Linked DNA regions of Homo sapiens. The protein of the gene in region 1 interacts with the protein of each later gene in a biochemical or structural test. Each region holds a gene or a part of one and is shown on either strand. Other genes may lie near its edges.

The links.
Region 2: the proteins of CRKL (region 1) and CD34 form a complex in vitro, tested with the Homo sapiens proteins (one study listed by BioGRID).
Region 3: the proteins of CRKL (region 1) and SYK form a complex in vitro, tested with the Homo sapiens proteins (one study listed by BioGRID).
Region 4: the proteins of CRKL (region 1) and NEDD9 form a complex in vitro, tested with the Homo sapiens proteins (one study listed by BioGRID).

The regions. Positions count from the first base shown.
Region 1 is NC_000022.11:20,926,871-20,934,579, forward strand, and holds part of CRKL (crk-like protein), read left to right. Parts: intron 1-6,908; coding exon 6,909-7,374; intron 7,375-7,709. UniProt on the Homo sapiens protein: May mediate the transduction of intracellular signals.
Region 2 is NC_000001.11:207,907,685-207,916,308, reverse strand, and holds the start of CD34 (hematopoietic progenitor cell antigen CD34 isoform a precursor), read left to right. Parts: upstream 1-5,183; 5' UTR 5,184-5,228; coding exon 5,229-5,307; intron 5,308-5,470; exon of another isoform or gene 5,471-5,654; intron 5,655-5,751; exon of another isoform or gene 5,752-5,941; intron 5,942-8,624.
Region 3 is NC_000009.12:90,797,408-90,804,957, forward strand, and holds the start of SYK (tyrosine-protein kinase SYK), read left to right. Parts: upstream 1-4,411; 5' UTR 4,412-4,486; exon of another isoform or gene 4,487-4,632; intron 4,633-7,550. UniProt on the Homo sapiens protein: Non-receptor tyrosine kinase which mediates signal transduction downstream of a variety of transmembrane receptors including classical immunoreceptors like the B-cell receptor (BCR).
Region 4 is NC_000006.12:11,187,213-11,194,921, reverse strand, and holds part of NEDD9 (enhancer of filamentation 1), read left to right. Parts: intron 1-1,229; coding exon 1,230-1,331; intron 1,332-2,475; coding exon 2,476-2,577; intron 2,578-3,716; coding exon 3,717-4,958; intron 4,959-6,614; coding exon 6,615-6,704; intron 6,705-7,709. UniProt on the Homo sapiens protein: Scaffolding protein which plays a central coordinating role for tyrosine-kinase-based signaling related to cell adhesion. As a focal adhesion protein, plays a role in embryonic fibroblast migration.

The DNA.
Region 1 (7,709 bases):
GGAGGCGGAGGCAGGTGGATTGCCTGAGCTCATGCGTTCGAGACCAGCCTGGCCAACACAGTGAAACCCTGTCTCTACTAAAATATAAAAAATTAGCCAGGCATGGTGGCGTGCGCCTATAGTCCCAGCTACTCGGGAGGCTGAGGCAGGAGAATGGCTTGAACCTGGGAGGCAGAGATTGCAGTGAGCCAAGATCGCACCACTGCACTCCAGCTTGGGTGACAGAGCAAGACTCCGTCTCAAAAAAAAAAAAAAAAAAAAAAAAAGAATGGTGGTTAAAGCAGTTTCACTAGAGAAGTACTTAGCTCATCTTGGAATTGAATTTTTTTTTTTTTTTTTTGAGACAGTGTCGCTCTGTCGCCCAGGCTGAAGTGCAGTGGCATGATCTCGGTTCACTGCAGTCTCCACCTCCCGGGTTCAAGTGATTCTCCTGCCTCAGTCTCCTGAGTAGCTGCGATTACAGGCGCCCACCACCATGCCCGGCTAATTTTTGTATTTTTAGTAGAGATGGGGTTTCACCATATTGGACCAGGCTGGTCTCAAACTCCTGACCTCAGGTGATCCAATTGCCTCGGCCCCCTAATGTGCTGGGATTACAGGCATGAGCCAGTCACCACGCCCAGCTGGAATTAAGTTTTCTACCTTTTTTTTTTTTTTTTTAACTGTGAAATATTTCATACATAGAAAAGAGTAAGGGTGCCGTGGCTCACGCCTGTAATCTCAGCACATTGGGAAGCCAAGACAGGTGGATCACTTGAGGTCAGGAGTTCGAGACCAGCCTGGCCAACGTGGTGAAACCCTGTCTCTACTAAAAAGACAAAAATTAGCCGGGCGTGGTGGTAGATGCCTGTAATCCCAGCTACTTGGGACGCTGAGGCAGGATAATTGTTTGAACCCGGGAGGTGGAGGTTGCAATGAGTTGAGATCGCACCATTGCACTCCAGTCTGGGTAACAGAGCAAGACTCTGTCTCAAAAAAAAAAAAAAAAAAAAAAAAGGAAAAAGAGTAAGCCTGGGCACGTTGGCTCATGTCTGTAATCCCAGCACTTTGGGAGGCCGAGGGAGGCAGATCACTTGAGGTCAGGAGTTTAAGACCAGCCTGGCCAGCATGTGAAACCCATCTCTGTTAAAAATACAAAATTAGCCCGGCAGTAGTGGGGCCCTGTAATCCCAGCTACTGGGGAGGCTTAGGCACAAGAATAGCTTGAACCCAGGAGGCAGAGGTTTTGGTGAGCTGAGATCACACCACTACACTCCAGCCTGGGCAATAGAGTGAGACTCTGTCTCAAAAAAAAAGTATATGTAAGCTGGGTGTGGTGGCATGCACCTGTAGTCCCAAATAGTGGGGAGGCTGAGGTAGGAGGATTGCTTGAGCCCAGGAGTTCAAGACCAGCCTGGGCAACATAAACCCCCATCTCTGCAAAAAATTAAACAAGGATTGGCTGGGCATGGTGGCTCATGCCTGTAGTCCCAGCTACATGGGAGGCTGAGGTGGGAGGATCACTTGAGCCTGGGAGGTCAAGGCTATAGTGAGCCATGATCGTACTGCTGCACTCCAGCCTGGGCCATAGAGCAAGACGCTATCTCAAAAAAATTTACAAAACAAGCCAAAAAAAACTATCATCTGTGTGCTCCCTTTAAAAAATAAATAAATAAAACATTGGCCAGGCGTGGTGGCCCAGACTGTAATCCCAGGACTTTGGGAGGCTGAGGTGGGAAGATTGCTTGAGCTCAGGAGTTCAAGACCAGCTTAGACAACATGGCAAGACCCTGTTTCTACCAAAAATACAAAAATTAATCGGATGTGGTGGCATGCACCTGTAGTCCCAGCTACACAGAAGGCTGAGGTGGGAGGATCGCTTGAGCCTTGGAGGTTGAGGCTGCAATGAGCCATGATTGTGCCTCTGCACTCTAGCTCGGGCAACAGAACGAGATCCCATCTCAAAAAAAAAAAAAAAAAAAAAAAAAGGAATATTACCAGCACCTTTGAAACTTCCTTTTTCTAGAAGTTGATTGTATTGGTTCTTAGCATGCATAAGGAGATTTTAAGCTTAGAACATATTAGCACTTGGTTTAAAGATGTTTTGTGTATGGTTTATACATGTAGAAACTGAGAACGCTTTTAACCAAAAGAGCTGAGAGATTCGTTATCATCAGAAAAGAAAAGTCAGTTACGAATTAGTTGTTAGGGGCTTTGCTGCTCAAAGTGTGTAGTGGACAATAGGCAAAAAGTGAGAAGCATGGTCAAGGGTGTTTGGATGGGCTTGAAAACCCTGTGCATTTTATTTTATTTTATTTTATTTATTTATTTTTGAGTCGGAGTCTCACTCTGTTACCCAGACTGGAGTGCAGTGGCGCGATCTCGGCTCACTGCAAGCTCTGCCTCCCGGGTTCACACCATTCTCCTGCCTCAGCCTCCCGAGTAGCTGGGACTACAGGCGCCTGCCACCACGCTCAGCTAATTTTTTTGTATTTTTAGTAGAGATGGGGTTTCACTGTGTTAGCCAGGATGGTCTCGATCTCCTGACCTCTTGATCCGCCCGCCTTGGCCTCCCAAAGTGCTGGGATTACAGGCGTGAGCCACTGCACCTGCCTTATCTATTTAATTTTTTGAGACGGAATCTCTGTCTGTCGCCCAGGCTGGAGTGCAGTGGCATGATCTCAGCTCACTGCAACCTCCGCCTCCCGGGTTCAAGCAATTCTCTTGCCTCAGCCTCCCAAGTAGCTGGGCCTACAGGCACACGCCACCACACCTGGCTAATTTTTGTATTTTAATAGTGACAGGGTTTTGTCATGTTGGCCAGGTTGGTCTCAAACTCCTGACCTCATGATCCACCTGCCTCGGCCTTCCAAAGTGCTAGGATTGCAGGCATGAGCCACTGCGCCTGGGCAACACTTTATATTTTAAAGGGAAGTTGGGGGAGGGTGCTATTTTCAACCTTGCTCAAAGAACAAATAATTGGGAAGCAATAAATTTTCTGATGAATATGCTTCATATTTCTTTAGACAGTGGGGTCTAATGGAAAGGCTAAGATATCTGACATGGAGCAACATGTATTTATCTCTTCAGTGGAACTAATGTGTAATTTTCAGGGGAGTTTGATGAATAAATGAGTTTGAGAATATAGGGCAGAGGACTTGGAATTTGTGTCAGGGTTATGGCTGGTGAGATTGATTTGGTGTCAAATTTATGAATATCTCTGCAGATACTAACACAGAAAATGAGCCCCAAGGTCACTATAGCAGTATAGTAGTGGAGGGAAATAGAAACTATCTTTATCAAATTTCTACACAGACATACCCCTCACCAGGGAAGCAAGGAAGTTGAAAAGCACACTTTGCCTCCCTAACCCAGGAATTTAGATGGGGGATCAGCAAACTGTTGAGTAAAGGGTCAGATTTTAAATATTTTCAGCTTTTCCATAGAGTCTCTGTCCAACTACTCAACTATGCCTTTGTAGTGAAAAACAGTCATAGACAATACGTAAATGAATGGGCTTGGCTATCTTCTTTTTTTTGTTTGTTTTTAAGATGGAGTCTTGCTCTGTCACCCAGGCTGGAGTGCAGTGGTGTGATCTCAGCTCATTGCAACCTCTGCCTCCCAGGTTCAAGCAATTCTCTTCCCTCGGCCTCCCAAGTAGCTGGGCCTACAGGCGCACGCCACCACACCTGGCTAACTTTTGTATTTTTAGTAGTGACAGGGTTTTTTGTCATGTTGGCCAGGTTGGTCTTGAACTCCTGACCTCAAGTGATCCTCCCGCCTCGGCCTCCCAGTGTTGGGATTACAGGCGTGAGCCACCACACGCCTGGCTTTTTTTTTTTTTTTTTTTTTTTTTTTTTGAGATAGAGTCTTAACTGTTTCAGGCAGTGACGTGATCTTGGCTCACTGCAAGCTCCGCCTCCCGGGTTTACACCATTCTCCTGCCTCAGCCTCCCGAGTGGCTGGGACTACAGGCGTGTGCCACCACACCTGGCTAATTTTTTGTATTTTTAGTAGAGAGACAGGGTTTCACCGTGTTAGCCAGGATGGTCTCAATCTCCTGACCTTGTGATCCGTCCACCTCAGCCTCCCAAAGTGCTGGGATTACAGGCGTGAGCCACCACACACTGGCTAACTGCTTTTAACTATACAAATAATAAAATACTCTTGGATGGAGTCTAAGGTGGAACTGACTGTGCTCTTAATAGTGTCTGAAATTTATATGGTACTTACTGGACTGTTCACAGGCTCTCTGTGGCTCTTGAAATAGCAGGGGCTGGGTGTGATGGCTCACACCTGTAATCCCAACACTTTGGGAGGCCAAGGCGAGAGAATTGCTTGAGGCTAGAAGTTCAAGACAAGCCCTGAAAACATAGTGAGACCCCCATCTCTACAGAAAATTTAAAAATTGGCTGTGTGTGATGGCAACTGCCTGTAGTCCCAGCTACTCAGGAGGCTGAAGTGGGAGGATCACTTGAGCTTGGGAAGTGGAGGCTACAGTGAGCTGTGGTTGTGCCACTCTGCACTCCAGCCAGGATGACAGCAAGACCCTGTCTCAAAAAAAAGAGAAAGAAATAGAAGCAGGGATATACTTGAAGGGGTATGTGTGTGTTCATGTCGGTACATTGGATGCTTGGTGCTGCTCGGTAATTTTGAATGCCTCACATGCATTATGCCATTAATTCTCATACACCTGACAGATGCAGGGTTCGTCCCTAAGGCTGATTAGCTCATTATGAGTGAAGAGTTTAGAACCAGACTCCCTGAGTGCAAGTCTAACCTCTTCTTTGGCTCCTCATTTGTAAAATGGGGATAATAACAGCATCTACCTCACAGACTATTAAATAATCCAATCTCTTCAAAGATCGTAAACCATGCCTAGCATAGATAATAAGTATGAGCTCTTTATTATTACTCTTGCTCCTACTACTCTTGCTAGCTATTTATTTTTATTTTTATTTTATTTTATTTTATTTTTTTGAGACGGAGTCTCGCTCTGTCACCCAGGCTGGAGTGCAGTGGTGCAATCTTGGCTCACTGCAAGCTCCGCCTCCCGGGCTCACACCGTTCTCCTGCCTCAGCCTCCTGAGTAAGTGGGACTACAGGCACCCACCACCATGCCCGGCTAATTTTTTGTATTTTTAGTAGAGACGGGGTTTCACCGTGTTAGCCAGGATGGTCTCGATCTCCTGACCTCATGATCCGCCCACCTCAGCCTCCCAAAGTGCTGGGATTACAGGCATGAGCCACTGCGCCGGCCTCTTATTTATTTATGTTTTGAGACAGTCTTGTTCTGTTGCCCAGGCTGGAGTGTAATGATGCAGTCATAGCTCACTGCAGCTTCTAACTCCTGGGCTCAAGTAATGCTCCTGCCTCAGCCTCTTGAGTATCTGGGACCGCAGGTGTGTGCCACTATGCCCGGCTCATTTTTTGTCTGTTTAGTAGAGACAGGGTTTTGATATGTTGGACAGGCAGGTCTCCAAGTCATCTGCCTGCCTTGGCCTCCCAAGGTGCTGGGATTACAGGTCTGAGCCACCACGCCTGGTGGATTTATTATTTTTAATTTGGCAAGTCTGTAAGCCCTTTTTTGTTCCTTTTTTTTCAAGAGGCCAGAGGCAGAGGCCTTTGTCATTTTCTGTGTGTCCAGGGAAGTGTGCAGGATGTAAGCCATAGATTAGGACTGGGAGGAAGAGTGTGTGGTGGTTGTGACAAGGGTCCAAAGGAAGGCAGCTTCCGAACTTACTTGAGATTATAAAAATAAATTTAAACCAGGTATCTCTGTGTAATCAAAAGGTTTCTGTAAAACAGAGATGGAGTGTATGTGTGTGTGTATACTTGTAATTTGAAAAGACATTCAGAATAGTAACTTTTGGGACAGTACAGACTACAAAAATTACAACATGATAGAACCTTCTTAACTACTAAGAATATAGAAAGGAAAATAAAGCCAGGCGTGGTGGCTCACACCTGTAATGACAGCACTTTGGGAGGCTGAGGCGGGTGGATCACATGAGGCCAGCAGGAGTTTGAGACCAGCCTGGCCAACATGCCAAAATCCTGTCTCTACTAAAAATACAAAATTTAGCTGGGTATGGTGTTGCACATCTGTAATCTCAGCTACTCGGGAGGCTGAGGCAGAAAAATCACTTGAACACGGGAGGTAGAGGTTACAGTGAACTGAAATTGCGCTACTGCACTCCAGCCTGGGTGACAGAGCAAGATTCTGTCTCCAAAAAAAAGGCTGGGCTCAGTGGCTCACACCTGTAATCCCAGCACTTTGGGAGGCCGAGGCAGGCAGATCACGAGGTCAGGAGATCAAGACCATCCTGGCTAACAAGGTGAAATTCCGTCTCTACTAAAAATAGAAAAAATTAGCGGGGCGTGGTGGCATGTGCCTGTAGTCCCAGCTACTCAGGAGGCTGAGGCAGGAGAATTGCTTGAACTTGGGATGCAGAGGTTGCAGTGAGCTGAGATCCTGCCACTGCACTCCAGCCTGGGCAACAGAACAAGACTCCATCTCCAAAAAAAATGTAGAGGCCGGGCATGGTGGCTCATGCTTGTAATCCCAGCACGTTGGGAGGCCGAGGTGCGTGGATCGCCCGAGGTCAGGAGTTCAAGACCAGCCTGGCCAACATGGTGAAACCCCTTCTCTACTAAAAATAAAAAAAGTTACCTGGGCGTGGTAGTGGGCGCCTGTAATCCCAGCTACTCAGGAGGCTGAGGCAGGAGCATCACTTGAACCTGGGAGGCAGAGTTTGCAGTGAGCTAAGATCACGCTATTGCACTCCAGCCTGGGCGACAAGAGCAAAACTTGTCTCATAAAAAAGGAAAATAATTTATTATAGAGGAGAGTGGTATATTAAGAAGTTTGACAGGCACTGGCTTAGAGTAAGATTTTTCTCTTAGAGTAATTTTCTTTCTCTCTTAAGGTATCCAAGCCCACCAATGGGATCTGTCTCAGCACCCAACCTGCCTACAGCAGAAGATAACCTGGAATATGTACGGACTCTGTATGATTTTCCTGGGAATGATGCCGAAGACCTGCCCTTTAAAAAGGGTGAGATCCTAGTGATAATAGAGAAGCCTGAAGAACAGTGGTGGAGTGCCCGGAACAAGGATGGCCGGGTTGGGATGATTCCTGTCCCTTATGTCGAAAAGCTTGTGAGATCCTCACCACACGGAAAGCATGGAAATAGGAATTCCAACAGTTATGGGATCCCAGAACCTGCTCATGCATACGCTCAACCTCAGACCACAACTCCTCTACCTGCAGTTTCCGGTTCTCCTGGGGCAGCAATCACCCCTTTGCCATCCACACAGAATGGACCTGTCTTTGCGAAAGCAATCCAGAAAAGAGTACCCTGTGCTTATGACAAGACTGCCTTGGCATTAGAGGTAAAATCTGTTCAGATTAGCTTTTTGGGTCCTTTGACATTTGGTTTTAATTTTTAGTTTTAGTTTAGTTTCTGCTCATTTAAGCTTATATTCATGGAATTAGAGCACTGGATGATTTTGGAAGATACGCACTGTTAGCGTTTCATTTTAAAATTTTTTTATAGAGACGAGGTCTCTAATTTTAAAAGAGTTGTTTGCCCAGGCTGATTTCGAGGTCCTGGCCTCAAGCAATCCTCCTACCTCGACCTCCCAAAGTACTGGGATTACAGATGTGAGCCACCATGCCTGGCCCATTATTAGTGTTTCACAGCTTGTTTTGTTCTGTCCTATTCCTT
Region 2 (8,624 bases), on another chromosome or scaffold:
TTAAAATGATAAAAAGCACATATAGGCCAGTTGCAGCAACTCATTCCTATAATACCAGCACTTTAAGAAGCCAAGGTGGGAGGATCACATGAGGCCAGGAGTTCGAGACCAGCCTGGACAATATAGCAAGCCCCTGTCTCTAAGATAAAATAATAATTTAAAAATGATAACTAAATAAATAAAAAGCACATTTAAAAAATTAAGCAAATGTGGAAACATTAGAAGCTTACACTTCAAAATCTGGAATGAGGTGAGGATGTGCATGATCACCACTCCTTTCTATCCTTAGATGTTCTTGCCAGTATATTAACTTAAGTAAAACAAATCAGTTGCAGAAGGATTGGGAAGGAAACATAAAATTATCACTATTTGCTTGTGATATGATCATTTACATATAAAACCCAAAATAATCTAGAAATACTTCAATCTAATAAGATAAGTTAATAAGGTAGCTCAATAAAAGATTAATATAAAACAATAAATTGCAATTTCATACACCAGCAACAAAAATAATTAAAAAGAAGATAATATTTGCCATAGTCTTAGAGGACATAAATTACCTAGGAATAAATCTAACAATGAATTAAATGAATTTATCACTTAACAATAATGAATGAATTAAAACCATTACAGGGAAAATTATAAACTTTAATGAAGACTCAAACAATGGAGATATATACCAAGTTCTCTGAAGGAAAGATTCCGTTCTCCCCAGGTTGATCTATGGAGGAATTTTGATCAAAATCCAAAAGGCTGTTTTGGAAGGAAATCTGATAAGCATTTATAAAATTGTATATTATTATTATTATTTGGAAGAACAAAGAGCCAAGAATAGTCAGGGCATTTCTGAAGACAATTTGGGAGAGGAAAACTTGCCCTACAGATGTCTGAACTTATTTAATGCTACAGTAAATAAGGCAATGGCGAAGGCACTTGGGGTGTCCATACTGACCAATGCTAGAGAGCCTAGAGCCAGACCCACATACGTATGAAATGTGGAACACGACAGAAATGGCATGTCAGGTCAGAAGGGAAAGAAGAGACTACTCAGTAAATGCAACTAGGAAAATGGTTAGCTGTATGAAAAATACATAAAACTGGTTTTCTGCTAGTTATTTATTTTGTCTCCCTCAGCCCCAACCTACTCCTCTGTACTTTTCTCTATAATACTGGCTACAATGTGTGTTTGCTCTGTTACATGAGAATATTCAGTTTCATACAGAGGACAAGAAAAGCAGGTGGGTGAAACTCATCAGATGTATTAACTATAGATACAAAGTAAGCAAGTCATTTGTGAGACATAGGCAGAATTCAGAAGATGTGCTAAAAATGCAGGATGGAGTATCCCTTATCCGGGATACTTTTTGGATTTTGGAATACTTGCATTACACTTATATGTTGAGCACCCCATTCCAGAAATCTGAAATCCAAAATGCCTCAATGAGCATTTCCTTTGAGTGCCATGTCAGTACTCGAAAAGTTTCAGAATTTGGAGCATTTCAAATTTCAGACTTGGGATTCTCAATCTATAGTAAGTTAGTAACCTGCAAGACATGTAAAACAGAATAAATGGAATAGACTACAAAAGGATGGAACAAACAAGAGTGCTACTTACAGGCAGAAAAGGATAGGAAAAAACAAATCATAAGCCATGAGGTATAGATTATGCCACCTTCTGGCTGGTGTCCATGTCATCCCTAAATTGACTACCTACTGGTGGCACCTTCTGGCCCCCCATAAGCTCTACCCAAGAAATACTGGCAAAAAGTATGGCTTCCCAGAACACTGACAAAGACCTGTGGCCAAGCCTACCTACCCTTAAACATCTCTCAATAGAATGAGTATACCTTGGTTCTAAGCATCTTCCTCATATTGATCCCCTTACTCAATCTCAGTTCTGGTCCTCATAACTATACCACTGCAGAGCGAAACACATGACTGAGGCTGTGAGACTGTGCAGGACTTTTGCCCTGCTTGCATTCCCAAGTGTATCAACCTTGTGTAAATCTGTCCCCTTGGTTCTGGCTCTATGCTTTAAATAGATTCCATAACCCTTGTGATTTGATCATCATAATTTGGTCTGAGTCTTCCTGATCTGTGGCCTCTGGAATAGCCTGCCTATCATGGAGGCAAACATTGCATCATGGTGACTTACCACAGGACACTGGTTCCCAGACTCCCTTGTCAGCTGATTTCTTGTTAGGTTCTGCCAAGAGGAGGCACTGGAGGGAGACTAGAAGGTGGAAAGAGGAAAAAAGGGACTTGCAGGTTGTCACTGCATCAGTCCAGCATCTGAACACTTCTACCGCTAAGGATCCCTGCCAAACTGAAAAAAAAAAAAAAAAAAAAGTTTGCAATGTGGGAAAAAAGTCTTGGTTCCAAAATATAAAATTGGAAAATCAAAATTCACAAATTTTTCATTAAATGCCTACAAAAATGTCAACTCAACTTGTAAACTGCAATTCAACTCTTTCATAGTTTCATGTAAATATAATAAAGTTTGAATTATAAGAACAAAATGAATATATTTTAAAATTCAGAATTATAACAACCATTTTCCTTACTTTTTTAACATCAGACATATTTGACATAGGATGAGGTCCTCTTTTAGGTTGATTGACATGATGCGTGTGTATTTTGGGGAGGGGTGAGGTAAGGGATGTTTAATAGTAAAAGTGGTTGTGACCTCCAAGGGTCTGTAAAGGGCCTGAGACAGCCTCTGACTCAGTGTATTTCTGTTGTATCCTCCATTTTGTGCGGTGTAGCTAACATCTTCTAGCAACAGCTTATGAAGCAGGAGAGCAGAGAATTGAGGAGCAGCCCAGAAAGGCTAGAACTTTGAAGAGACTACATAGCTCAACTCTACCTGGCCTGTGAGGAAATGTAAGGCTGGGGTCCCTGGGTACCCTTGTGTCCAGTGGCCAGAACGTGTGTTTGGGGGTGGCTTGGGCAAGGGTGTGTGTGCTTGGGGTGATGAGTCTCAGTGACCCTGGAAAATATGAAGAGTGGCCAATCACTGTCTAGCTTTGTAGTTCTGGGGCTATCCATAACCTTTGCAAGCCAGAGAAGAAACAGCTCTGGTCTCTCAGAGGAAGGGATTTGCCAGCCTCCCATATCCCCTACTTCTATTTTTCCTCCCTGAAGCCTGACATCCACTTCGCCCTTGCTCCTTGTACCCAGCAAGTGTTCTTTCTATACCAGGGCTTCTTGAACCTCAGTGTGCATGAGTCATGGAGAATACTTACTCAAAGTACAGATTCTGGCCCTCACCCTTGATTCTGTGTAGACCATGCTTTGAGAAAACTCTGCTCCACAGAATCATTCTCTCTCTCTTTGCTCCCAAAGCTAGTTAAGAAGTTCAGGTACTAAAGAAAGACAAGTTATTTCCCCTGTTTCCCGTGGTCCAGCTATGGGAGACAAATGGTATTTAAAGTAACCAGAAAAAAAAAATCTGGAAATGGAAGTTAAAGTGGACCAAATTAGCTTTCATATCTAGCAGGGATTACAACCCCACATTTGTTCTCAACTGCACACTGGATGCCTGAAGCAGACCGAGCGGTCCCTGGAGCTGAGGAAGTTGAGGGGAGTGGGGGGCCTGGCAGTGTTGGAACTAACTCCTTTTCCCTGTTAATTGGGAGTCCCAAGGACCAATGACTGATTTTAAAATGCATGTTTGCCACTCCTTCTGTCCCCAGGCCCTTGCCATCACTATGTGATCAGTTCTGAATCATCATTTGTACTTTGAAACAGATTCATACCATTCCGTTGTATTCAATCAAATTAGCATATCAGGCCTTTGCTCTTATTGTGTGATGAAAGACTTTGTTCCCTGTTTAAAGGAATGCTAGGCAACAAGACCAGAATAAGGAGATTTTGGGTTTGTTTTTAGACCTGGATCCTTCTCCTGTGCAACCCCAACGCATAGTAGGTTTGAGATGGACTATAAAGGTAAAGCTACTTTTATAATGCTAGAGTGTCTGCGGAGAAATCAGAAAGGACCACAGAGTGCTGGTCTGGCTTCTCTTTTTTCCCTTTAGGCTATGTGGTACAGACATCATGGAAGAGCCTGAACTGAGTATTTATAATTTCATGATTCTGCTCTGGATATCAGAGCAGCCTCTCCCAGGTTATACCTTATCTGATCCTCCCCTGGTGCCATCATCTGCCCAGGCTGGCTTCTCCTTTCTCCCGTCTCTACGTCCCCAAGACTAGGCTGCCTACCCGGCTCAGAGTTTCTTCTATTCAGTACAACCAACACCCAGAGGAACTGGTGAGGAACAGGAAGCTCAAGGATCTATCAAGTGGTGGAGGATGGAGTCACAGAAAGTCCTTTTTCTGATGGGAGAGCAAGGTGAAATCCCTAGTGGCTTAGACCCAGGGCTGGAGAGGGGATAACTGGTGAGAAGGCATCCAGGGAAGTCCTTTTTCTTTAGGATGATGGTGATGGGGAACTAAATGGGGAAATATGGAAGGTCACAGGAAAAGTTAACACAAGTTAGCAAAAAGTTAACATAACACAAAAAGGTCTTGCAGGAAAAAAAAAAGAAAAGAAAAGAAAGAAAAAGTCTCCAAGAATGGTTTGGACAGCCAAAATGAATACTTATAGTCACGTATACCTGCTCACTCCTGACGCTTCACTCACACACAGCACAGGATCTGGTGAGGCTATCACTAAATGTGCCACATTGTGGTTAAGTTTTACCTGATTAACGAAATGCTCACACTTCTAAACTGAGGTCCTTACAGTAGATTCCTTTTGCAAGATTGTTACTGGCTTACAACTTAAAAATAAAGGAAAATCACAAGGAAAGAAAAGTGGGGAAAAAATCGGAGGAAACTTGCCCCTGCCCTGGCCACCGGCAAGGCTGCCACAAAGGGGTTAAAAGTTAAGTGGAAGTGGAGCTTGAAGAAGTGGGATGGGGCCTCTCCAGAAAGCTGAACGAGGCATCTGGAGCCCGAACAAACCTCCACCTTTTTTGGCCTCGACGGCGGCAACCCAGCCTCCCTCCTAACGCCCTCCGCCTTTGGGACCAACCAGGGGAGCTCAAGTTAGTAGCAGCCAAGGAGAGGCGCTGCCTTGCCAAGACTAAAAAGGGAGGGGAGAAGAGAGGAAAAAAGCAAGAATCCCCCACCCCTCTCCCGGGCGGAGGGGGCGGGAAGAGCGCGTCCTGGCCAAGCCGAGTAGTGTCTTCCACTCGGTGCGTCTCTCTAGGAGCCGCGCGGGAAGGATGCTGGTCCGCAGGGGCGCGCGCGCAGGGCCCAGGATGCCGCGGGGCTGGACCGCGCTTTGCTTGCTGAGTTTGCTGCGTGAGTACCGCCCGCGCGCCGCGGCCGCTTGGCTTCGCCGCGGGGAGGGTGGAGGCTTTCTGGGAGGCTGAACAGCAGAGCAGAGTCTCACGGAGGGAAGGGACCCCTGCCCAACCCACGCACTGCCGCCCACAGCTGCTTCCCCCCGGGGCCAGCGCCTCACCTGGGAGCTGACGGGGGTGGGAGGGGAAGGGAAGGCCATCACCCCCGCGAGTGTGCGTTAGCCGAGGTGTGAATCGGTCAGCACGACTGGTTCCAATGGACTGAGATAAAGCGCTTTGGAGATGCCAGGGTCTCTTCTGGTTGCCAGAGGCGCGGAGTGCGAAGTTGCAGCCAGAACCGGGAGACTGGGGAGGAGAGAAGCAGGAAAAGTTTTGTGGCTCTTGGTTGATTCAGAAAGTATAGACACGGAGCGGATTGCTGGGAAGGGGCCGGTGTGCCCACCTTGCACAGGGACTGGGAGAGCCAGAAGTGGACATTAAGGAATTCGAGGGAAGCGAATCAGGGATGAGGCTCCAGGTCCCAGGCCAGGGGTGTTCGGAATGAACAGTCCGTGAAAAGGAAAAACAAAACCAAACAACCAACCAAACAAAAACCTTGCATTTAAGATTGGGAAGCTGAGTTTGAATTCCCACTTCAGCAACCCCACCGCGGAGGAGGTAGAAGTAGACAGAATTTGCTCTGCGCCCAGCCTCGCTCGCCTTACCAAAAACCGTCACCCCTGCACAAATTTCAAAACTTGTCACCTTTTGGAGTTTTCTTCCTCTGCCCCTGCTCCAAGTTCTAAAGCTAGTGGATGGGTTAGAACACTGCCCCCACTCACCTACACATATCCTTACTCTTAAGGTCTTGCTCTCACTTCGGTTAAAAAAAAAATAGGCACCCGGTAAATATTTATACTCGATTACTTTCCTTGGGGAATGACATTCTCCACCTCATCTCTTTGCACTTGGAAGGTTTGAAACTTTTGAAACTTTGTACATTGCTCTCCCTTTTGCTTACAGCACTCTAGGGCTCCCAATTCTGTACTCTCACTACATCCTAAGGGCCACCCACTGTGGCCCTGCAGAGTGACCTGGACTAGACCTCTTTGTTCCCAGTCTCCTCTGTTGTCCATCTTTGGGTCCGCCCAGCTGGGGACAGCTGCCCCTGGGCTGGAGGAAGCTCTGAGAGAAGTTTTGGGTTGCCCTGTTTGGCAGTCCTGGATGTGTGCTTTGGGGCAAGGAAAAGCTATCAATGAGGTTTCAAAATTCTAGAGTGGGTGCTAGACTAGGCCCTCATAACAGGAGTGAGTCGGCCGGGCGCAGTGGCTCACGCTTGCAATCCCAGCACTTTGGGAGGCCGAGGCAGGCAGATCATGAGGTCAAGAGATCGAGACCATCCTGGCCAACATGGTGAAACCCCATCTCTACTAAAATTACAAAAATTAGCTGGGCATGGTGGCACACCCCTATAGTCCCAGCTACTCGGGAGGCTGAGGCAGGAGAATCCCTTGAACCCAGGAGGCGGAGGTTGCAGCGAGCCAAGATCCTGGCACTGCACTCCAGCCTGGGAGACAGAGCGAGACTCCTTCTCAAAACAAACAAACAAACAAAAAACAAAAAACAAAAAAACAGGGGTGAGTTGGCCAGTGGTGCAGATTCCAATCAGATGCTCCATTCTCCTTTGGCTACACAGCTTGTGATGACCTGGTCCTCAGCCGAATGAGGTCCACCCTTTTCTTATTTCCTCAGCTGGTAAGTGCCAGTCTCGCCTTGGCCTGCCGAGGTTGGGGTTGGGGGAGCAACACAACCTTGGCAAAACTTTGGACTGATATGCTGAGAATATCCCAGCTTTTGGTGGGGAGGGATGAGGCACAAGGCCCCATTCCCAGCCTTGCCAGACTACTTGAGCCAATTGTAGTTTTATGCCCTTCCCAAGAGCTTTCTAGGGTTTTTGCTTGGATTTGTTTTGTTTTGTTAATACTAGGAGTCATTTTCAGTCCTGGGATACATTGTGGGATAAATGAGATAACTGAGTGTACCTTGAAATGCTACCATAGGGCCATTGCAGAAATGCTATTATTATTGTAAAATTTAGGGTAGAGGGGATTTCTGTGGTTTGTTTTCTCATCATTTACCCCAACAAAGAGCTTGTTTTGGGAAGTTCTTTTTTTCTGTCCCTTTGAGAAGGTGGCATGTGCATAGGCACTGCAACTAACCAGAAGTGGGCTGTCTTTGTTGGAAGTGGGGGAGATCACAGAGCAGAGTCAGGGTAAGGGGCTCAAGGGCCACCAGGCAGCACTGCCAGAGTGCTGGCTGGAGCAGGAAGCCTTTCAGGTAATTAGGGAACCCCTTTGTCAGGCTCAGGGTATCTATTTCCTCCAAGCTTTCCAAGGCCTGTCCCTATCCTCACTCTAACAACACCCCCAGGCCCTCCCCGTCACATTCCTCTTCTTCCTTTGGGTCCTTCGTGCCTGCTGACCCCACACCCATATCCTGTCCAGGGCTACATGTAAGAGGGGAAAAATAAAAGGGAAAAGAATTTTATCAGCTATTTTCCAGAGGGGAGAGGACTCCACCCTTTGAATCTCTGCCATATGGCGACAGAGGAGGAGCAGGCTTGGGGACCTCTGACTAATTCAGTGGTCCCCAGTGCTCCGCACTTGTAGACCCAACCCAGTTGGCACCACCTTTGCAGATGCATGTCTTCAGCAGCATTTCTGTTCGGCTGATAAAACACACAGGGGCCTGGGGCCTCTTTTTCTTATCCCTTTGGCTCCACCTCCTGGGCCTCCTCATTCCCTTGTCCTCATCTCCTTCCTTCGCAATCTTTGTCTCAAAAAGCTTAGGGCAAGAAGTGCCAAACTGCAGCAGATAAACTCAGCTGCAGAGTCCTACGAAAACAAATGAAAATGAGGAACAAATTCCACTTCTTACCGTTGGTCTCATTGCCTGATTTCCTTTAGACCCTGAGCTGGAGGGCCTGGGTTTACTTTCAGGGCTGGATGGTTACCCAACTCCACTCTCAGGTACTTGGGCCTCCCTCTCTCATTGACTTTGGTTGATCTAACTAAATGGCTTGCAGTGTGGAGAATTAAAAATAAGAAGGTATGGAAAAAGAACACAACACCACCCTCCAGAAGAAAATTCTCACAGTCGCCAGGGCTGTGAGAATTCCATATTTTTGTGGGCTTGGACTTCTCTAATGAGAACATTCTCTTCCCTCCTTAGCTAATAAATGAAAACATATTATCTATGACTTTTAGTCCCAGAGCTGGACGTTGTGCTAAGGAGAAAGATGCGTGCATGTTGGAAAGATGGAGAGACAAACAAATA
Region 3 (7,550 bases), on another chromosome or scaffold:
GGAACCTCAATGCAAACTTTGGGCTTTGGGTGATTATGATGTGCATTAAAGAGTGCATTGTGTTTAAGAAATAAAAGATGGCCGGGTGTGGTGACTCCTGCCATCACTTTGGGAGGCCAAGGCAGGATGATCACCTGAGGTCAGGAGTTCGAGACCAGCCTGGCCAACATGGTGAAACTCTGTCTCTACTAAAAATACAAAAAATTAGCTGGGCTTGGTGGCGGGCGCCTGTAATCCCAGCTGCTCAGGAGGCTGAGGCAGGAGAATTGCTTGAACCTGGGAGGCAGAGGTTGCAGTGAGCCAAGATCACGCCATTGCACACCAGCCTGGGCAACAAGAGTGAAACTCCATCTCAAAAAAAGAAAAAGAAATAAAAGATGCTGGTTGATCTGTATCAGTATATATCCTTGTCAAGTTTCTTAATATCTCAGTTAAAGAAAGTTTCCTCCAGCAGCCTGGAAAGAAGAGCAAGTCACCTAAAAGAGGACAAAGGACTGGCTGTTCTCACATTTCTCCAAAACAACATTCAATGCCAAAGGGGCAAGGGAGGAAAATCAACCGAGTCTAGGCCAAAGGGAAGTAGGATGGAGACACAATGTGCCCACCTTGATGTCACTGCAATACAACAGCAACAGAATAACATCCTGAAAGTGGAGAGCATTGATAGATGCAGTATGTGGGATCACATCTTCACAGAGTCCATCCAGCTCATCAACAAAGAAAGTAGGAATGAGATATGGTGGTAGAAAGGTCTGGAGGTGCATAAGGTATCCTTTTAAATGGAGAACTAAGAAGAGACCACTGAGGGTTTATGGTTACAGAAATCAAAAATTTTAAACTTAACTATGTAAAACTCATATAACTAGGGAAACGTGAGAGGTGAGCTGAAGTGAAGTGGAGTGAGAGAGGTAATTGGTTCATGTATCATAGCAGAGTTACTGATACTGTCTGAAATTAAAGCTCATGGTTTAGAAGAAATGACGAAAACTGCTTATTATTGTCACTTTTCTTTTCCTTTAATCAAAGTGGGGTCATTTCAGAAATGATACATTTGTGGCAAAGAATCATTTCTATAAAATCAGCAATTCTTTAGATCCCATTTCAGAATTTTTTATTCTGTTAAATTTAAGTAGAATTAAATATCATATTTAACATGGATAAAATGTATAATAAATGTATTATATTTAAAATGATGCCCATTTTTATATCTATTGCCATGTGTACATATAGAAAGAGATAATTTTGTAAGGGTCACCTAACGGTAATGATGATTATGTCTGAAATTTGGGATGTTTCTATTTCCTTTGTGCTTTTATTCTTTTAAGGGATTGCCTATTAGGAATACTTGCCACTGTTACCAAAAAAACTATTTTTTTAAATTAAACACTATTTTTTAGAGCAGTTTTAGGTTCACAGTAAAAATGAGAGGCAGGTACCGAGGTTTCCCATATACCCACTGACCTCACACATGCACAGCCTTTCCCATTATCAACAGCCCCATCAGACTGGTACATTTGTTACAATTGATGAACCTACTTTGACACATCATAATCACCCAAAGCCTGAAGTTTACACTGATGTTCCCTCTTGGTGTTGTATATTGTATGGTGTTTAACAAATGTATAGTGCTGTGTATCCACCATTGTAATATCATACAGCATACTTTCACAGCCCTAAAAAATCTCTGTTCTCCTTCTATTCATCCTGCCCTCCCCACCAGCCCATGGCAGCCACTGATCTTTTTACTATCCAGATAGTTTGGCTCTTTCCAGAATATCACCTGTTGAAATTATACAGTATGTAGCCTTTTCAGAGGGCTTCTTTCACTTGGTAATATGCATTTAGATTTCATCCATTTCTTTTCATAACTTGCTAGTGCATTTCATTTTAGTGTGGAACAATATTCCATTACACTGATGTACAAGAGTTTATATATCCATTCACTTACTGAATGACATCTTGTTTGTGTCCAAGTTTTGGCAATAAACTTAGTAAATAAAGCCAGCGTAAACATTTGTGTGCAGATTTTTGTGTGAACATAAGGTTTGAACTCCTTTGGGTAAATACCAAGAAGCACAATTACTGGGTACTACTTTAGGTAAATACCAACTACTTTGGGTAAATACCAAGAAGGACAATCCTCTTATAATTACTCATGTTGTAAGAGGATGTTTAGTTTCATAAGAAACTGCCAAACTGTCTTCCACAGTGGCTGTACCATCTTGCATTCACAACAGCAATGAATGAGTATTTCTATTGCTTCACATCCTCACTAGTGTTCACTGCGGTCAGTGTTCCGAATTTGGGCCATACTGATATCTTACTGTCTTCATTTGCATTTCCCTGATGATACATAATGTGAACCATCTTTTAGGCTAGGCATGGTGGCTCACGCCTGTAATCCCAGCATTTTGGGAGGCCAAGGCAGGCAGATCACGAGGTCAGGAGATCGAGACCATCCTGGCGAACACGGTGAAACCCCGTCTCTACTAAAAATACAAAAAATTAGCCGGGCATGGTGGCGGGCGCCTATAGTCCCAGCTACTCGGGAGGCTGAGGCAGGAGAATGGCGTGAGCCCAGGAGGCAGAGCTTGCGGTGAGCTGAGATGATCGGGCCACTGTACTCCAGCCTGGGCAACAGAGTGAGGCTCCGTCTCAAAAAAAAAAAAAATTACTACATGATACTAAGTAATGCGGAAGGTGACTCAAAGGGGGAAAGGAACACAGCAGTGTAAAGGAAGGAGGTTGTAGATGGATCTAGAATTTCCCCCTCATTTCCATCAGGTGAAAGCCTGAGAAAACTGCAATCTTTGTGCAGGCTGGGTTTGCTTTGTACACACTGGTCCCCTAGTGTTCATCTCCAATAATGCTGACAACTCTGAAAACCATCTGTAGACATTCTGCAGGCTCCATCTCAGGAACAATGGCTATTTTTTCGGGTAGTTGAAGCAAAATTAAGTCCAATGATAAGCAAATATAACCATTATCAAAATCTTCCATTTATGTTTGTTAAAGCAACCTAAGTATGATCTGAGAAGGACTCTGTATTCTATATTTGAGTCCTTGTGGATGAACTGTAACCTAGCTTAATAGGCAGACAAGATTGAAAACCTAATTTAGGAGTATGTGCCTTTAACAATAGCTGAGTCTTGGCCAATCCCAGTGGCCATACTTCAACCATTCATACACTGCTGAGTGTTCAAACTGTGTTCAAAGAAGGCAAAAGCCAACCTGTAACCAATCCAGTTGTTTCTCTGCCTTACCTCCAATTTCTGTATGTCACTTCCCTTTTTTTGTCTATAAATATGTTCTGACCATGAGGCATCCCTGGAGTCTCTGAATCCGCTGTGATTCTGGAAGCTGCCCCATTCGCAAATCATTCATTACTCAATTAAACTGCTTTAAATTTAATTCTGCTGAAGTTTTCTTTTAACAGGTTTAGAAAAAATAATGGCAAAAATGAATGAAAATCCAATAACCCTGGAAGCAGAAAAGGCTGGGGGCTCCAATAAGTGTAAATAGTCCCATCCCTATATTTTCTCCATGGCAATTACAATCCAGCACATTATATATATATTTTTTTGCTTCTCGCATTTTGGCTTAGGGTAAAGCTTTTTAAAACAGGCACTGCCAACCAGTGTTATCAAGAAGGTCTGGATGCCGTTTTGTGGGAACATTTTAAAGAGGAATGTCCAAAAGGAAAAGGGGGATGGGTTGGGAGAAGGGTATCAGGCGGGTATCTCAAAACCATTCTTAGGGCTATAGGTTTAATTTATTTGGTTGTGGACGTCAGAGCCGTCATGGTAAGAAGGAAGCAAAGCCTTTTGTAATAATTAAAGCCTTCAGAAGCAGCGTGCCCCATTGCCCACTAGTGCGCCGTGAAGTCTGGTGTTCACCTACAGGGTCCCTCTCAGCACTGCCCAGGCCTCCCGAGTGCTCCAGCACAGTAGCTTGGAGCTTGTTGGTTTGGTGACCAAGATACACTCCAGGGAATATGCCATGCAGTGGAGTCTCTTCCCCGGCACTGCATAGCAAAAGGAAAGGGCCGCTGGGTGTCTGTGGGTCCTGGGCAGTCACAGAAGCCACCGCGCTGGCGGGGAGGAGGGGGACCGATGCGGTCCATGTCCCGGGCAGCCCCACCTTCTCTGCCTGCGAAGGGCCCTTGTCCGGCGGGAGGAGAGAGGCGCGCCCCACCCGGGCTCCTCTACACCTGCCGCCGCCTGGGCCGATTCCGCGGGCCTCGCCCGGCGCTTCAGCCGATTCCCGCCCAGCTCCGGGCTCATGGGCGCGGTCAGCAGGGCGGGCCAGGGCGGCGGGGCGCGACACTGGGAGGAAGTGCGGGCCGCCTGCCCGGGCGCGTTAAGGAAGTTGCCCAAAATGAGGAAGAGCCGCGGGCCCGGCGGCTGAGGCCACCCCGGCGGCGGCTGGAGAGCGAGGAGGAGCGGGTGGCCCCGCGCTGCGCCCGCCCTCGCCTCACCTGGCGCAGGTAGGTGTGGCCGCGTCCCCTACCCGGCCGGGACTTTCTGGTAAGGAGAGGAGGTTACGGGGAACGACGCGCTGCTTTCATGCCCTTTCTTGTTCTACCTTCATCGGCCGAGGTAAAAGTGCTGAAACCATGTGAATAAAATACAGGTGGGTTCCGCCAGCTTCGCTCCTGAACCTACCCGCGCTCGGGATCCAGAAGCTGCGCCGGGAGAGAGGGGCTCAGGCCTGGGCGGAGGGGACGGAGGTCAGACCGTGCGGAAAGTGACCCGGGCACCCCAGGGCGCCCAGGCCCCCAGGGAGCGCGGAAAGTGCGGTCGCGGCCCGGCCCTCGGGAGACGCGGGATTGGGATCAGGCACAGCGCGAGGAAGTCGATCTTGGAGCTAGAACATTTTCCTTTGGCCATTTACACGAATCCACTGGAAAATGCCGCAGTGTTTATCAAAGTTACTCAAAGTAGAAATGTCCAGACGTCTTATGAGCTTAGACAAATCTTTTACTACAAAAAGAAACAGCAGTTGCATTCAAACAACAACCCTTCTGAACCACTACTAAAATTTAGCATAATTACTCTTGTGGATACATTTTCATTGTCAAGTAATTTACTTAGCCAATGAACTTGGAGAGCAAGAAAGTTTTATGTAGTAAAATGTAAATTTGAGTTAAGAGTTAAGGGTGTTTCTTTTTGTCTGTTTGTCTGTTTTTGGCAATGTGGCTCCAAAACCTTAAGCCCACCTAAAAACTATATAAATGCAATCCATTCTTTTGTTGGAATGTTCAAGGACTAGAAAGACAATTGGAGAAGTGAGAGTTTGAATCTTTTTTTACGTTGGAAACAGTGTTGCAAAATATTTTTTGAGTTTTGCCTGACTTAGCAAAGATTCAGTCGAACTCAAGTAGAGTTCAAAGCATTGCAGCGTGTAGTAAAAAAAAAAAAGAGTTGAAGATGTTGTGCCATATCTGATTCTTGGTATTAAAAATAAAAAAAGGAACCATTTAATCCCTAAGAGTTCCTGGAAGAAATGGAATTGATTCTACCATCTGACTTCTTTGTCTTAGTAGGGACAAATTCATTGCCTTCACACAGGCAGCATTTTAATTAAATGCAACTAAATACATTGATGTCCTCCTTCTCCCCAGTGAAAGTCCGAGCAGTGCATAGATAGAATTATATTTTCTCAAAAAGGCTTAAATACATGTAAATTATTAAGTGTTTTAAGTGAGAAATCTTTGTCAGTTGAAATTATTTTATCAAATCATTTTTGTTCTGAACGGCACTTTTGTTTTAACGTATTTAGAAAACTCTTGCATTAAAACAGAAATTGATTTGTATTATCCCCTGTATTTGAAGTGCACTTTAAAGTGTATTTGAATGAGAGATTATAATCAAATTACTTGATTTGTGTCTTATCCTCTTACTCTTCTACCTTGGATTTGAAAAGGTTGGATTTGAACACTAGGAAAAAAGAGATTTTTCTACTGAGGGATTGTGGGAAGATTTTTTTTTAAGCCTCTGTATTTGAAGTGAAATATAAAATAGGATTTTATAATAGTCTTAATAACTAGAAAGTTTTAAGCTAGGATAAAAATGGGGTGTATACTTTAGGTCTTTATCTTTCCTGAGAGATGAAATTGGTAGAAACGTTATTTTATTGCTAGATTTCACTTTAGAAATGAATCACCCTGATCTTTGTTAGGCCCCTATTTAATATTCTAAATGCAGGTCTAATCTCTCTGCTTTTTTTTAATGGAAGACTTCTTAGTAGAACTTCACTTATTTAGCACATTGTTTGCCCATGGTTATAATCCAATATGCTTGTGCCAAGACGTATTTTGGAATTCAAGCTTTTTCAGAATTTGGAATTAAAATTTAGAATCTAAATTTCAGAACTGAGAAAGACATTGCTCAGAATTTAGAAAGGTAAACATACATGTTGACCCTGCTGGTTACATGCCATTCCAATATAGTCTGGAGAGAATCCTGTAATTCCATGCATTAATATTTCTGTACTTTTACATTTAAGAACATGAATATTCTCACTAAGTGGAATAAATAAAGACTATAAAGAGCTGTGTGTCTGTTTAGAGCAGGTGTTATCACTACGAGAGCTTCTCTAAGACTTACCAAAAAAAAAAAAAGTGTTGTTTTTCAGAGCTTTTTAGAGCTGCAGCTGAGGGACTGAGTCTGTATTAGACTCCACTGAACTACGGTTTGCTTTTAAAAGGAAAGTGCATTTATGTTGTTCAATACTTCACACTTTCCAGTAATTAGAAGGGCAGTTCCTCTCTCTTTAGGGAGTCTTAAATAGCAAGATTTTACTGAATTTTCAATCATACCGATCAAAATAGAGGTACTTCAAGTAAGAGTGGATGTCTCATCTTTGTAATATAATTTCAAACAGCATAGTTTCTGACAGTCTACCATTTTAGAGAAACAGAGCAGAAGTTACTTACAGGAGGGGTTACTGTCACCCTTTACAGCTGCAGTCTGTCCATGGAAGAAATATTATTTCCTGTTAACTTTGCAACCAGCTGGGTTTGTGTCAGTTATCTAAGCCTAAGTGATGGCTAATTTTTACTTTCTCAACTTTCCCTGTATAGATTTTTTTCCAGCTACCCCCTGACTTTTCTACTCTTGCTTTGCTGGTTTTAACATTTTCCACTACTTCTGGATTGGTTTAGCTATAACTGGGTGGAGAAAACAACAACAACAACAGGAATTTAGGCCTTTGGGGAAGAATTTGTTTTGTTTTAGAAGTCTACACATTGAGCATTACTTTTTCTTCTAAAGCAACTAAAATCAGAAGGCAGAGTCCTAATGAGAGATTATGATCAAATTGCCTCATTTGTGTCTTATCACCTTCCTCTTCTACTTAGATTTGAACAGGTTGGATTTGAATACTAGGAAAAAAGGGTTTTCTACTGAGGGATTGTGGGAAGATGTTTTAAGAACTAGTCTGATTGGATTTTAGGAAAGTTCATTCATTTTGATATGATGTTATCAGGGACATTTTCTATTTGCTTATAATTTTATCTGACCAATATTAGCTTGTATCAATTTGAGGTT
Region 4 (7,709 bases), on another chromosome or scaffold:
GGCAGAAACAAGACCCTGGGCATTTAGAAGCCCTTGGACGATTACATATATTTCAAAATGAGTTAAGTTCAAATAATTTTTTGCTGGTGCTTAGCACACCAATGAAGTATGTAGATATGAAAACAGGAGGCTGCTAGGTAAGATTCATTTTATTGGCACTGGTTCCAGATGCCAGCATCGTGATGAACGCTATTTGACTTCTGATATCCCTTGACGTAGGTACTGTTGGGGATGTTTTCTTTCCTGGTGGAAATGGGAAAATGATTAGAGACCAGAGGTCAGGAGACCTGAATTCTGTTCCTGGTGCCTCCCTGACTCAGTATTTTGTTTGTTTGATACGTTAGAATGAAAGCTCCCAGAGGTTTCTAAGGACAGCACAGTTTGAGCATTGGCTTTGTAAAAGTACTCTGGTGACCTGTGGAATTACAGTTATAATCATCATAATAATGTCCAATGAAGAGGCATACTGAGGAAGGCATGAGAGGAATTTTAAGTGGCTAAACTCTATTTGCATTATTCATTTTACAAATTGTTTCAGAGCCTTAAAGCAAATTTCAGTATGCGGTACTTTAGATGCAAAATGCTCCTCTAGGACTTTCATAAGTTACACACAAGTATCCCTTAAAGTATATTTCAGAAATATGCTTGCAGTGCATCAACTCTATCTGATGAACTTTGAGATGATCACAATTAAGGGTGATAGAGATATTTTAGGGATTTTTTTTCTCATTGGGATTCAAGAGGGATTTAAAAGTTTACTAACCTGGGCCAGATGCAGTGGCTCACACCTGTAATCCCTGCACTTTTGGGGGCTGAGGTGGGTGGATCACCTGAGGTCAGGAGTTTGAGACCAGCCAACATGATGAAACCCTGTCTCTACTAAAAATACAAAAAATTAGCTGGGCATGGTGGCGTGCACCTGTAATCTCAACTACTCAGGAGGCTGAGGCAGGAAAATCACTTGAACCCGGGAGGCAGAGGTTGCTGTAAGCTGAGATTGTGCCACTGTACTCCAGCCTGGGGAGCAAGAGCAAAACTCCATTTCAAAAAAAAAAAAAAAAGTTTACTAACGTGGTGTCTACTTGTCTCCTTCCTGTTATGTCTTCTTTCTTTGGTTTCTTTCTATCTTTTTATGAGGGAGAGTTGAGGGATGAGTGCTTAGTTAGGAGGCAAGGAGATTCAAGGACTCAGGCTTGGAAATTTACACCTCTGTGCCTTCTCTCCCACAGGTGATAACCCCCGTGAGGACAGGCCATGGCTACGTATACGAGTACCCATCCAGATACCAAAAGGACGTCTATGATATCCCTCCTTCTCATACCACTCAAGGGGTGCGTACCAGAACATGGTCACAAGAGGAGAAGCGCTTCTAAGGGTAGCATTCCTTCAGGGCTGTAGAGAAAAGGGAGTTCACAAATTATGCATTAATATATGTCATATGAAGCTTTGTTTAGGTTGTCTACCCAGTAGCCACTTTAGCCAATGCTATTTAAATTATGTTTTCTGGATTTGCTTTATCAGGAAATCCTAGTATTTCACCCAAGAGAGCTTATGTTCTTCTACAATTTTGCTTCAGAAAGTAGATTTTTCTTTTTTCTTTTTTTTTTTTTTAAGACAGAATCTCACTTTGTTGCCCAGGCTGGAGTGCAGTGGCTCTATCTCAGCTCACTGCAACCTCCACCTCCCAGGCTCAAGCAACTCTCCTGCCCCTGCCTCAGCTTCCCAAGTAGCTGGGACTACAGGCACACACACCACCATACCTGACTAATTTTTGTATTTTGTAGGGACAGGCTTTTGCCATGGTGGCCAGGCTGGTTTTGAACTCCTAACTGCAAGTGGTCTGCCCACCTCGGCCTTCCAAAGTGCTGGGATTACAGGTGTGAGCCACGGCCCCCAGCTGGAAAGTAGAAAATTTAAACTACACTTTAAAGTACAGACAGCGTAGATATTTCACATAAGATCTTTTTTTTTTTTTTTTTTTTTTTTTTTGAGACAGAGTCTTGTTCTGTCACCAGGCTGGGAGTGCAGTGGCACGATCTCAGCTCACTGCAACCTCTGCCTCCCGGGTTCAGGCGATTCTCCTGTCTCAGCCTCCCAAGTAGCTGGGACTACAGGTGTGCACCACCACACCCAGCTAATTTTTGTATTTTTAGTAGAGATGGGGTTTTACCATGTTGGCCAGGATGGTCTCGATTTCTTGACCTTGTGATCTGCCCACCTCAGCCTCCCAAAGTGCTGGGATTACAGGCGTGAGCCACCGTGCCTGGCCAAAATCATTTTTATATTAAATGTAAGTTAAAAACCATAAAATGTATTAAAAAAAAAGGCAATAAATCTGTTATAACATGGAGCACTGCCAAAGATCAAGCTTGTACATAACCTGGTAAATAAATCCATAATTAAGTGCTTAGGAGCATAAAAAATGACCAAGTATAAGACATTTCCATTCTGGGTAACTCACGGGTTTCTCTTCAGGTATACGACATCCCTCCCTCATCAGCAAAAGGCCCTGTGTTTTCAGTTCCAGTGGGAGAGATAAAACCTCAAGGGGTGTATGACATCCCGCCTACAAAAGGGGTGAGTGAGTGACTACAAAGCAGCAAAAAGGAGTGTGTGTGTGTGTCTGTGTGTCGGGGGGTGCAGGGTTGGGAGGGTGGGTAAGTAGTTCACTCGAATAAAACAAGAAAGGCAAACCCAAAAGGGGAAAATGTAGTCTTGGTGAGAGTAAAGGAAGGAAGCAAAAAAGGAAAGGCACTAATTAAAGATAGCTCTAGGGATTTCATATTGAGAAGCCCCAACTAAAAAACACTAGGTGGCCAATAAGGATAACCCTTTGGCAGGGAAGATAATTAGTTCAGTTTGGCAAGTACTAATATATATTTGTAGAGGGTTTGTTTTGTTTTGTTACATTTTGTTTGAGACAGGGTCTCGCTCTGTCACCCAGGCTGGAGTGCAGTGGCGCAACCACAGCTCATTGCAGTCTTTACTTCCCAGGCTCAAGCAATCCTCCCACCTCAGGCTCCCAAGTAGCTGGGACCACAGGTGCACGCCACCATGACTGGATAAATTTTATTTTTTGTAGAGACGGTGTCTCCCTATGTTGCCCAGGCTTGTTTTGAACATATGGGCTTAAATGATCCTACTACCTTGGCCTCCCAAAGTGCTGAGATTACAGGCTGAGCCGCGCCTGGCCTGTAGAGGGTTTGACAGTTTCCTCAGTGTGTATGTTTGAGTGAACTCGTTTGACTCACTCTGTTACCCTATGGGGTATGCCTGCACAGGAGGCACAGTAATCCCTACTTTACAGACAAGGGGACTGTGTTTCAGACGCCTATGCAGCTCATTCAGCATCACACAGCTGGTGTGATAACCAAAAAGACCGGGGGAGAACTCTGGTCTTACTCTGCCTCTCGGCACAGATCAGCAGAGAAAGGATACCCAGGAGGTGGTCAGAAACACAGGACTGGAAACACAGGGTGAGCAATTTAGCCAGGAGGGTTGTACATACGAGTCTGCACCAAGAACGTGGGGTTGGACACACTTGGCAAAGGACAAGGGAAGTGACAGCAGAATAACGGGGAACCTTGGAAGTGCCTAACATTGGGGCGGGGGAGGGCGACCGAAAAAGTGCCAGCAAATAGGACTGAGCACATGGGACCACAGGTTCCCATGAGCCAACTCAATAAATAGCATTTCGCTTTCTACTTGCTTTGCAGGTATATGCCATTCCGCCCTCTGCTTGCCGGGATGAAGCAGGGCTTAGGGAAAAAGACTATGACTTCCCCCCTCCCATGAGACAAGCTGGAAGGCCGGACCTCAGACCGGAGGGGGTTTATGACATTCCTCCAACCTGCACCAAGCCAGCAGGGAAGGACCTTCATGTAAAATACAACTGTGACATTCCAGGAGCTGCAGAACCGGTGGCTCGAAGGCACCAGAGCCTGTCCCCGAATCACCCACCCCCGCAACTCGGACAGTCAGTGGGCTCTCAGAACGACGCATATGATGTCCCCCGAGGCGTTCAGTTTCTTGAGCCACCAGCAGAAACCAGTGAGAAAGCAAACCCCCAGGAAAGGGATGGTGTTTATGATGTCCCTCTGCATAACCCGCCAGATGCTAAAGGCTCTCGGGACTTGGTGGATGGGATCAACCGATTGTCTTTCTCCAGTACAGGCAGCACCCGGAGTAACATGTCCACGTCTTCCACCTCCTCCAAGGAGTCCTCACTGTCAGCCTCCCCAGCTCAGGACAAAAGGCTCTTCCTGGATCCAGACACAGCTATTGAGAGACTTCAGCGGCTCCAGCAGGCCCTTGAGATGGGTGTCTCCAGCCTAATGGCACTGGTCACTACCGACTGGCGGTGTTACGGATATATGGAAAGACACATCAATGAAATACGCACAGCAGTGGACAAGGTGGAGCTGTTCCTGAAGGAGTACCTCCACTTTGTCAAGGGAGCTGTTGCAAATGCTGCCTGCCTCCCGGAACTCATCCTCCACAACAAGATGAAGCGGGAGCTGCAACGAGTTGAAGACTCCCACCAGATCCTGAGTCAAACCAGCCATGACTTAAATGAGTGCAGCTGGTCCCTGAATATCTTGGCCATCAACAAGCCCCAGAACAAGTGTGACGATCTGGACCGGTTTGTGATGGTGGCAAAGACGGTGCCCGATGACGCCAAGCAGCTCACCACAACCATCAACACCAACGCAGAGGCCCTCTTCAGACCCGGCCCTGGCAGCTTGCATCTGAAGAATGGGCCGGAGAGCATCATGAACTCAACGGAGTACCCACACGGTGGCTCCCAGGGACAGCTGCTGCATCCTGGTGACCACAAGGCCCAGGCCCACAACAAGGCACTGCCCCCAGGCCTGAGCAAGGAGCAGGCCCCTGACTGTAGCAGCAGTGATGGTTCTGAGAGGAGCTGGATGGATGACTACGATTACGTCCACCTACAGGTAAAACAGCGGAACTCATAAAACACCTACACTCACTCACATGCAGGGAGCCTGAGAAAGATGCCTATAAGGATGTCGGGTTGGACTGCCAAAGGAGAGAACATAATTAATGTTAATCTACATGGTTCACAAATTGGAGGGAGTGTCGTAGAGTAGTAAGAACGCTGGGCTGAGAGTCCTGAGTACTCACTCAGATCTAGCCCTTTCTCTGACGTTTACTGTGTGACCAACTTATTCAACCTCCTTGGGCCTTAATTTCCTCATTTGCAAAATGAATGGGGTAAGGGGTTGGATTAGATCCCGTTGATATACCTCAGGTAAGAGGAGACTCACCAAGTAGGATAATAGGCCCTCTAATAATAATACCAGCTCCACTTCTATTTGTGTTTTATGTATAGTTCCATGCAATATTTTATTTGAAAAAAAAGTTTTCGTCATTAAGAAAAAGAATAGAAGACCTTTGCACCAGAGAATTTCTAAGGCCCCTGCTAGCCCTACTCTGTGTATGTGTGTGTATAATTGCTTTAAAACTTAGCCCCATCTCAGACTTACCTAGAGGACCACTGGGCATTAGCTAGCTGTCCTAGGAGCTTAATCTGTGTATGGGACATTGGATAGTCACAGTTGGCCTCCTACAATTGGGAATTCTACCAAGCTCCAAGTTGACCTGGGATTCCGACAGCTTTCCCTTCCACTTTGAGGGATTAAAACATTCTACTGGCTGGGCGCAGTGGCTCACGCCTGTAATCCCAGCACTTTGGGAGGCTGAAGCAGGTGGATCACAAGGTCAGGAGTTCAAGACCAGCCTGGCCAATATGGTGAAACCCCATCTCTACTAAAAGTACGAAAATTAGCCAGGCATGGTGATGCACGCCTGTAGTCCCAGCTACTTGGGAGGCCGAGGCAGAAGAATCACTTGAACCTGGGAGGCGGAGGTTGCAGTGAGCTAAGATCGTGCCACTGGACTCCAGCCTGGGCGACAGAGCGAGACTCTGTCTCAGAAAAAAAAAAAAAAATCTACCAAGATCCATTGTTTAGGACTAGGCTTACTATCTTATTCTGCCATTCTTTTAATTTGACTGAGAGTCACAGATTATACTGAGAACTACGTAACTATTATGCCAAATTCCCTCAAGCGCAAGAAAGTGTGGCAAGGAGAACTGAGCCCCACCTGATGCTGAGGAAGGAAGTGGAGAGAGAGAGGATGGAGGCATTGAACATTCATCTTACTGGTTGTCTGACCCTGCACAGTGGGAACTACTGCCTTGGAGCAGAAATCTATAGATGATTTGAGGGAACTAGAAGTGAGAGGTGGACCACATTTAGACCTGCATTTGGGGGTTTACAGGTTCACATATAATCTATGAGAAAAGAACCCAGAGACTATAAAAAGAACATTATATATGAGATTTGAAGGGAATCATGAGTAGCTCTCCGAAAATTTTAAGGTGCCCCAGAAAGCTGGCACCCTATATGGCAATGGGCTTTATTTTTCTGCCACCCCTGTCGTCTAGGGTTCACAGTGCCTCACTGGGCATTTGAGATGTTGCCAAGGCAGTGGAAAATAAAGAGTATTTACTCATCCGTCAATGAAATTGTTAGCATAAGTGAATCACAGTGATGACATAATATGTTCTTTATGTTGAAAATTAACAGGGTAAGGAGGAGTTTGAGAGGCAACAGAAAGAGCTATTGGAAAAAGAGAATATCATGAAACAGAACAAGATGCAGCTGGAACATCATCAGGTAAGTTCAATCAGAGCAAAAACTGCTTGGCATTGGAAAGATTTCCCACCTAGCACTAAGGAAAGGTATCACTTCAAGAGATTATGATTTTGATTCTTCCAGCTCACTGGCAGGAATCAGCTCCAAAGCACGGAATGGGGTTTAAAAGCAAAGAGAAGGTTTATGACCTTGTTAGTTCAACTGGGTGTACCTGGGTTCCATCTAAACGGCAATTTTTTTAAAGGCTAAACCTGCATATCTAACATATGAGGACTATTTGGGTTAAGGCATTTGGTCTCAAGAAACAAGACCCATTCAAGCTAGCCTAAGCAAGCAGGTTTATAGTAAAGCCACAGTAGGGGAATTCAGTAACAGAAAGTGAAGATAGAGCCAGGTCTGGGGAGAACTAGAACTGTAAATTATCTCTCCTTCTTGTAGTTCCTTTGCTTCTTTCTATCAGTCTACTTCACTCTCACCTATTTTCTGGTTTTCTCTAATTATCTACTCATTTGGCTCCCCTGTAACTTTGCAGAACCCATAAATGGCCACTCAGAACTTCTATAGATGGCTTTTCATCTCGGCTTCCTCTTCCGATGGTTAGCTCCCTTCTCTTGTTCATCAGATTCCCAAGAAAGAGTCTGATTGGGCCACGTTGATTGGGCCATTTCTCTTTCTCTCTCTCTCTCTCTCTTTCTGTCTCTACCTCGCTATTTGTCTCTCTTTCGCCAGCAACACAAGCCTATGGTTTGCCTGGCCTTGGTCCAATCTAAAGGTAGGAGAGCAGAATTCAATGTTTTCAACATATATCCAGGCCTATCTACTGAGGACTTTGGGCAGGGCATGTTCATTCAAAAGCTGGGTATGAGTAGGGGAGATAATGACGACTATTGCTAGAACAAGGGCATACAAATAAAGAGAGATGGATTGAGGATTTATTTACAAGCCTTTTAAGATGAAATGAAGTGAAATGGCATGTAATGACATGAAATGGCATGCTATATTTAGGAAATCTGAGTTCTAATCCTT